2 separate regions of the Homo sapiens genome follow, and region 2 is linked to region 1. The links come from fine-mapping of genetic effects on gene expression. A gene starts in region 1. The other region holds a variant in brackets. All regions are shown on one strand. Distances are from middle to middle. Region 1 holds the start of ICA1L (islet cell autoantigen 1 like). Region 2 overlaps ICA1L (islet cell autoantigen 1 like).

What was found. PIP is the estimated chance that this variant, and not a neighbour inherited with it, causes the effect. A credible set is the group of variants that fine-mapping cannot tell apart.
Region 2: its variant is the best candidate, but not a certain one, in a credible set for the expression of ICA1L in caudate (GTEx, PIP 0.88).

The regions. Positions count from the first base shown.
Region 1 is chr2:202,869,960-202,873,959 of GRCh38, forward strand. It overlaps ICA1L (islet cell autoantigen 1 like), which reads right to left and starts at 1,807. Exons shown (of 13, transcript NM_001288622.3): 1 at 1,660-1,807. RefSeq lists silencers at 1,350-1,839, 1,880-1,929, 1,990-2,119.
Region 2 is chr2:202,844,604-202,849,139 of GRCh38, forward strand. The region is part of intron 1 of ICA1L (islet cell autoantigen 1 like); the gene reads right to left. Among named protein-coding and RNA genes, the nearest start is that of ICA1L, 25 kb to the right of the region's middle. The variant GTCAT/G (reference allele first, on the strand shown) is at 2,129.

The DNA of each region.
Region 1 (4,000 bases):
AAATCTACTTCGAACGAGGAAATCTTTCCAGTTACAGATATATTTAAAACTCACATATCCCATCTGTTGTTGTTAAAGAATATAAAAAGAATAAAATTTTAAAGGAAGCGCAGTGAGTACTGAAAAAGCTAAAGTATAAAAGTACAGAAAAAATGTAAATATAGAATCACACAATGAAATCACCAAGTTTGGCAGTATAGTAGAACAAGACAGTATATTATCTATTTTGTATCTAATATTTTGATATCTGGTCCTAGTTCCATAACTGGTATAAACTTTGTTTTATATTTTTATGATATTTATAATAAAAATATGGCATCCTACTTTTTCCACCAGTTCTCATATTTGCAATTTTTCCTCTTTGGACTGGCTGATCTCTGAGCACCCTTCTAACTCTAAAATTAAACTGGTAATTAGAACACTGCCTTCCACATAGCTGTTTCAACGACTAGATAAACAATCATTTTGAACTATTAAATAAAGAGATTTCAAAGAATACTGGGTATGATAGGCACAGATAACAAATACTAAACGATTTAAAATTTTGGTCACATAAAAATACATACATACCATTCGGAGATGTTTACTCGGCCAGTAAATGTATAATTAACTCCTACTAAAGGATGAGGCACCTGTGGCTATTCCATAAATACTGATGTGAAGATGATTAAAGTAATATCGTCTTACAGTACGTCGCCTGAGTCAGAACCAAATAAATCAATACATAAATACTTTTGGGAAAAATCAAAACCATGGAAAAATGTTACCTTCCCAACAATCTATTTTACAGAGACCCATAGTTTATAACAGCTTTTATGCTGTGTGCATCAAGATCATCTATTACACGAAAAATGATTCCACCCCCTCTACTGGCAACGCCCCAGCATCGCGGGTGAGCTGCCAGGATGGACTCCCCGCTTTCCCCTCTCCGTCTTCCTTAGAGCATCAGGTATCTGACCACTGACATCACCTGGGCACCTGACCAGCTGACGCGCGTTTCCAGGAGCCATATCTGTGCCGTGGGGTCGGGTTGCCGGCCTAAGGAGCAGGATCTGTGCGCGGAGCCCCTCGCGGGCCCGTGCATTCTGCAGTTCAGCTCAAACTGCACATTTACTATGTTTTGTTTTTATCCATCGGTTGCCAATTAGTTTCTAAGGAAGACATTCCCATTACAAAATAATAGCGAAATAAAAATAAGCACCACGTTAAAAAGAGGTCAGCAGGGAAGCACCTGAAGGCTGTTCGGGTGATCCGCCGCCGCCTCTATTAGGAGCGACCTCCACCGCCGAGGGAAATCACCCAAACGAGCCCCAGGCTGCCGCGCTCCTTCACTACAGCGAGCGTGGCCGGGAGGCGCCCTTCCGCCGCAGGGGACCCAGCCACGCCAGAAACCGCTCCTTGCGGGTTTTGCCTGGGGGGAGGCCGGAAGAACCCCGAGCAGGGCCTCGCCTGGAAGAAGGCCGCAGGCAGCGGCCGGGGTCCCCCAGAGAACCGAGGAGGCCAGCAAGGCCCCGAGAAGCCGCGCGCGCGCGCGTGTGGCCGGAGCCTCCCGCCGCGCCCCCGCCTCCCGGCGTCGCCATGGGAACCCGGGATTTGGTCTCCGGGCCTGACCGCCGCCTGAGGGGGAATAGGGGCGGACAGGAGGCAGCAGAAGCTTACCGGCGCCGCTCTTCCGCCTCCTCGGGTCGCGTTCGGCCGTACGGTGATCCGTCCCGGCACCCGTTCCGGCCACCGCCCGCGAGCCCCGCGCCGACTCCCGGCCCTCCGGCAGCCAGTGCCCCTCCGCACCAGTGCGTGGAGGTGTCAGGCTCCCGCTGCGGGAGGCGGGAGATTTAAACCGCGCGACCTGGCGTCCGCGTTCGCCCCCCTCGGGCGCCGGCCTGACCCCGCCACCGGCCCGACTCGGGATCGGAGCATCTCTCGGTCTGCTCTTGAATGAACTCGGGGACCCTCTCTATTCCTCCTTTCCCGATTTCCTCTTTACTTAATAAAGTGAAATGACAAACACCAAACCGGTCAGAACATTACGAGGAGCTGAGTGTGAGCTCTCTGAGGCGTGGGGAAGTGGAAGGCATTGGCCCGGGGCCCTCCCGGCTCCCTCCGAGCACCCCCACCCCCGGACCTGCCGGGCCTTCTGGGGCGGCCCCTTAGCACCAGTGCTCCTTAGGCGGAAAGCGTTCGCCCGCTGTATTTAACTCCCGTGTTAAAGGTTTAAAGAGGTCTAAGTTAACAACCGTTCATAACCAATCTCAAATGCACATATCCATATCCATAATGTTTATGATGAATCTTCAAGAGTAAAAGGTAAAACCGGATCCTGAAAGTCTCAGGAAAAAAACAAAAAGGAAGGCAAAACTATTTACTACTAGTAGGAGATAATTTAATAAATTCAAACTTCATTCTTTTTAAAGGTGACTCCAAAACTTAAAAGAACTTTCCTAAAACAGCAGAATACGAATTATTAATTACAACTGCGACACATAGGCTAGCAAAGAATTAAAAGGTTAACACTCGAGGTGATAATTAAAATCTGTATGATGACAAAGATGGGGTGAGTCTAGAATTTATTTTATTTTATTTTATTTGAGACGGAGTCTCGCTCTGTCGCCCAGGCCGGAGTACAGTGGCGCGATCTCGGCTCACTGCAAGCTCCGCCTCCCGGGTTCACGCCATTCTCCTGCCTCAGCCTCCCGAATAGCTGGGACTACAGGCGCCTGCCACCACGCCTGGCTAAGTTTTTTGTATTTTTAGTAGAGTCGGGGTTTCACCGTGTTAGCCAGGATGGTCTCGATCTCCTGACCTCGTGATCCGCCCGCCTCGGCCTCCCAAAGTGCTGAGATTACAGGCATGAGCCACCGCGCCCGGCCGAGGTTCTGGAATATTAACAGTACAAAATACTCACCTTAACCTGGAAATTATACTTTTAGAATAGGAAAAGTGGCAAGCTACAGAGGGTTAATTTGGACTGAAAACATTAAATGTCTTTAGACTTTTACCCTGAGATATTTGGATTTCAAGGAATAGGCAAATACCTGAGATTATGTGCAAAATTTTGTTTGTTTTTTTGAGGAGTCTACAGCTTTCCTCAGAAGGGTAAAAATTAGCGTTTGGCAAACATGAGTGATTGACCTATTTCCTTGGGATGGCTTTCCTGAATCTTACCAAATGAGGCATTTCTCCTAAGGGGCATACTGCTCTCTGGCTGTAACGATCTACCTGCCTGTCTTCCCCATTAGGTGCCGAGCTGCTTCAAAGCTGCTCCTCCCTTACGCATTTCTGCAGCCTTAGCACCTAGCACAGTGCCTAATACAAACTAGGTCCTGAATGAATGTTGAATCCATCAATGAACGAAATGAAACAAAGATAGCTAATTCACAACTGAAGGATACATTATAAAATATCTGAAAAGAACAGATTATCTTTCTCACCAAGGAATAAATAAAGTGGCAAGCGAAATGACTTTCAAATGTTACTATGCCCCATAGTAAAGTTCTTGGGGTATTTTAGAAAATGTTTGTTCCAACAAGATGAAGTTTTAAGTCAAGAGAACAGTAAACTAATATCTTCTTCAGCTCAATCTGAGGCCGACTAAAGTCCTCCAAGGAACACACCTGGAAGTCAGAATAATGGCTACCGGCCGGGCCTGTTGCTTTTATTCACTTAACTGGGTAAAATTACAGAAAGATACACAGTATCTCCAAGCCATTAATGAAGTGTAGTATTTACACTTCATATAATCACTTTTTCTTCACAAGTCGCTAAGGAAACACGGTGGCACAGTGTAGGAATAGTATCAGAAAATAATGTAGAGCTAGCTGCTGATGCTTCTCCTGGACAGGAGTCAAGTCTCTCATATTTCATAAATGCCTGTGGAATGAATTCTTTCTTTAGCTGTTGGATACAATGTTTAAATGGCTTGCACTAGGAAGAGCGTGGTAGTTCAAGCCTATAATCCCAGCACTTTGGGAGACTGAGGCAAGCGGAGCACTTGTGGTCAGGA
Region 2 (4,536 bases), 25 kb before region 1:
AGAAGGAATTGAGATAAACTTGCCCAATTTTTGCTTCCCAAATTTACCAGACAAGCCACTCCTCCTCTAGAAAGAAATGAGAGGGTAGAGAGAGACTAGGAGTTAAACTAATTGAGCTCCTTTAACATAGGAGGAAACGTCAAGAATGAGAAAGATATATTCCCTGTGTATTAATTTCCTACTGCTGCTATAAAAAATGATCACAAACTTAGTAACTTACAACAAAATTAATTTACTGTCTTCCCATTCTGGAGGTCAGAGTCCTAAAATAAAGTTGTCAGACGGCTGCATTTCTTCTGGAGGCTACAAAGGAGAATCCATTTCATTGTCTTTTATAGCTTTTAGAAGCCACTTACATTTCCTGGCATGTGGTCCCCCTTCCTCCATCTTTAAGGCCAGCAGCATAGCATCTTCTAATCTTTCTCTAATTCTATATGTCATCACATTGTCTTATCTTCTTCTGACCTTTCTGCCTTCCCCTTAAGAAGACCTATGTGATTATATTGGACACACCTAAATAATCCAGGATAATATCCCCATCTCAATATCCTTAACTTAATTACATCTTCAAAGTCTCTTTGAACACAGTCTCTTGCAACAGAAAGTAACATATTCATAGGTTTCAGGAATTAGGACATGGACATCTTTGGAAGGCCATTATTCTACTACAGCCTCTATCAGTTTTCACTCTTATTTAGCAAAAGGATAGGCTCAAGTAATTTCTTCATAAAAGATACTTGAGGCCCGGCATGGTGGCTCATACCTGTAATCCCAGCATTTTGGGAGGCCAAGGCGGGTGAATTACTTGAGGCCAGGAGTTCAAGACCAGCCTGGCAAACATGGTGAAACCCTGTTTCTACTAAAAATATACAAATAAGCTGGGCGTGGTGGCAGGCACCTGTAATCCCAGCTACTTGGGAGGCTGAGGCAGAAGAATCACTTGAACCCGGGAAGCGGAGGCTGAAGTAAGCCAAGATCACGCCATTGCACTCAAGCCTGGGCAACAGAGCAAGAATCTGTCTTAAAAAAAAAAAAAAGGAATACTTTATTCCTTTTTACACTATACAGTATTTAAATTTTCAGCTGTGTCCTGGATTTGGAATTCAAATCTTAAGTAAAATAAAACAAATCAATAATCTCTTTAGAGGTAGATTTGTATTCACTTATAACGTCTCATTACTATGACATCACTGAAAAGCAAGTGGAACTGATATTAATGTGCACACTGAAGCACTGAAATCCTCTTGAGAAAAATAATCTGTGAAGACTTTTGACTTAATATAACACTAGTGTTTGATGCAATTAAGAAAATATATTAGTCAAACCTGCTGTTTAACATAGTAGTCCTGCTTACTCTGGCTCCTAAGCCATGAGTTTTCTTACGAACACAATCAACATTCCTCAGAGTGACGGTTTATAAATAATTCAACTTTGGAAGGGGGGAACTGGTAGGAAATGCTCAAAAATGTCGGCAATGGTTTTCTCTGCAGTGGGATCATGGATGACAGTTTACTGTAGTTTCTGATAGTTTTCTGCAGCAAATTTGCTACAATTAACATGTATAACTATTATTTGAATAACTATTATTATTATAAAAATGTTTTCTTATCAAGACCAGTTATACTTTTACCCTTTTTGGTTTTTCTTTCTTTCTTTTTTTTTTAGACAAGATCTTGCTCTGTTGCCTAGGCTGGAGTGCAGCAGTGCCATTATGCTCTGACCTCCCAAGCTCAAGTGATCCACACGTGCATGCCATCACACTTGGCTAATTTTTTTTTCTTTTTTTTGTAGAGATCCTAAGACTGTGCCCTCACCCCCACTAGACCAGAGACTGGTTGCAAGTCAGGGTCTCCAGAACTTCTGACCCACCAGCTTCAAGTGGGGGGTTCCCAAGACTCCTTTTTGGGCTCGATTAATTTGCCAGAGTGGTTCACAGAACTCAGGGAAACACTCAGAGTCTCAAGGCAGGTCAAAGGAGGGCAGAAGGTCAGAGGCCTGTCCCTGAAGCCTAACACACCCAACACTGTAACAAGACTGTAATGAGAGCTACGGAAGTTAGGAACCAGCAAATGTTGATAAAAAATAACACCACACTATCCAACACTTGCAAGCCCTTATCCAAAAGTGA[GTCAT/G]TCATTCATTCATTCATTCATTGTTAAATATATATTAAGTGCTTATAGTTTTATGTAGCAATCTTACCTGAAATGTGACTAATAATCAGTAAGTGCATATAAAAATATCTGAGAAGTTAAAATAGTTATTACAAGACTATATATTAAATCACATGAACTTTATTTGTAAGGGAGCTGGTCTCCCCCTCTCCTGCTAACAATCGAACACCTAATTAATAACAGAAATAGGATTGAAATTCTGATGTGCTGGGTACCATGAGTGAAATTTCCTTTGAACTGTATGTTGAAGAAAAACAGATTTTAACAGCAGGAGGCAAGGAAATACTATTCCAAATACAGGCTGAAGAAGAGAAAGGCAGATTGATGGTACAGATTGTAGAGACCTGTTTAGCAGAGAGACTAAACACAGAGAGTTCAGAACAATCTCTCCATATTCCAGACATAATCTAATAAAAGCCTGGACCAAGCCATTAGTGTAAGAATGGCTATAAAGGCAGATATCTACAGAACTTGGTAAATAATGATTAAGCAGTTTTGCCCCAGAAAAATAAGGGCAATTAGAAGAAGCAGTTCTCTAAGTGGGAAGGTTACACATTTCATCTGTGACATCTTGAATCTGAAATGATCAAGAACATCAGAGTTTTCCAAAATTTCCAACAGGTAATTAAAACTGTAGTAATAAAAAATTGTTTCAAGCTTGGGTCTCTAGTCAGACTGTCTAGGTTTGAACCTAAGAACTTTTTTTTATTAGCTGTGGGACCTCGTGCAAGTTACATTAATCTCTCTTTTAGTTTCCTCATCAGTAAAATACGAATAATGAAGTAAATGGATTGTTATAAGAATTAAATGAGAAATATATGTAAAGTGCTTGGAATAGAAATTGCTGGCACTTAAGAATTCATGTTATATTTTTTCATTTTACTTTTTATCAGAGCTTAGAATGAAATATTATATGGGAATTATATATATATATAGTTAAGCAGTGAGAACAAATGAGACCTTCAATAAAATAGAAAGGGTGGTAAACAAAAAGATACAGGCACTTGTATGTTCACTGCAGCATTAGTCTCAATAGCAAAAACATGGAATCAACCTAGATACACATCAACAGTGGGCTGGATAAAGAAAATGTGATACATATACACCATGGAATACTATGCAGCCATAAAAAAGAACAAAATCATGTCCTTTGCAGCAATACGGATGCAGCTGGAGGCCATTTTCCTAAGCAAATTAATGCAGGAACAGAAAATCAAATGCCACATGTTTTCATTTTTAAGTGGGAACTAAACATTGAGTACACATGGACATAAAGATGGGAATAGTAGACACTGGGGACTACTGGAGTGGGGAGAAGGGAGGAGGTGTTGAGATTAGCCACCATGCCCGGCTAATTTTTGTATTTTTAACAGAGATGGGGTTTCGCCATGTTGGGCAGGCTGGTCTCGAACTCCTGACCTCAGGTGATCCACCTGCCTCGGTCTGCCAAAGTGCTAGGATTACAGGCGTGAGCCACCGCGCCCAGCCAAACAGCATATTTTTAAACTTTTGGTTGACTATGTGAAAGTGCCAACATTAGGCCATTTTTTACCTATAAAAACAGCAATTGCATGGGACTCAATCTAATAAAAGGAACCGAAACAAGTTTACTGAAGTGATCTAACTCATTTCAGAAGAAAGTCATCTGTGGGCAAATGATCTCCCTAACCAAGAACATGTCCCAGCTCAATTCAGAGATCTGAGCTGACTGGCAAACTATGGCCTGCTGGCAAATTAGTCTTTAGCTGCTTTCTTGCTACAAAGGCAGTTAGGTACATCCAGCAAATTGCACAGCCCACAAAGCAAAAAATTATTTACTATTTGGCCATTTACAGAAAAAGTCTGCAGACCCCTGATCTCAGCCATGGTTCTAAAATATAGTCTGAAAAGTCATAAATCTCTTTAAGTTGTATTATTGTAATAAGACAATGTCTAGTCTTTGTATACATACATATATATTTTGTGTGTGTACAGATATATATAGTCATGCACCGCATAATGACATTTTAGCCAGTGATGGACCATATATACAACAGTGGTCCCATAAAATTATAACGGAGCAGAGATCTGGCAAAATGGCCGAATAGGAACAGCTCTGGTCTGCAGCTCCCAGGGAGACAAACGCAGAAGGCAGGTGATTTCTGCATTGCCAACTGAGGTACCCAGTTCATCTCACTGGGACTGGTTAGGCAGTGGGTACAGCCCACGGAGGGCAAGCAGAAGCAGGGTGGGGCGTTGCCTCATCCAGGAAGTGCAAGGAGCTGGGGCCCTCCCTCCCCCAGCCAAGGGAAGCCACGAGGGACTGTGCTGTCTGGCCCAGATACTATGCTTTTCTCACAGTTTTTGCAATCCGCAGACCAGAAGA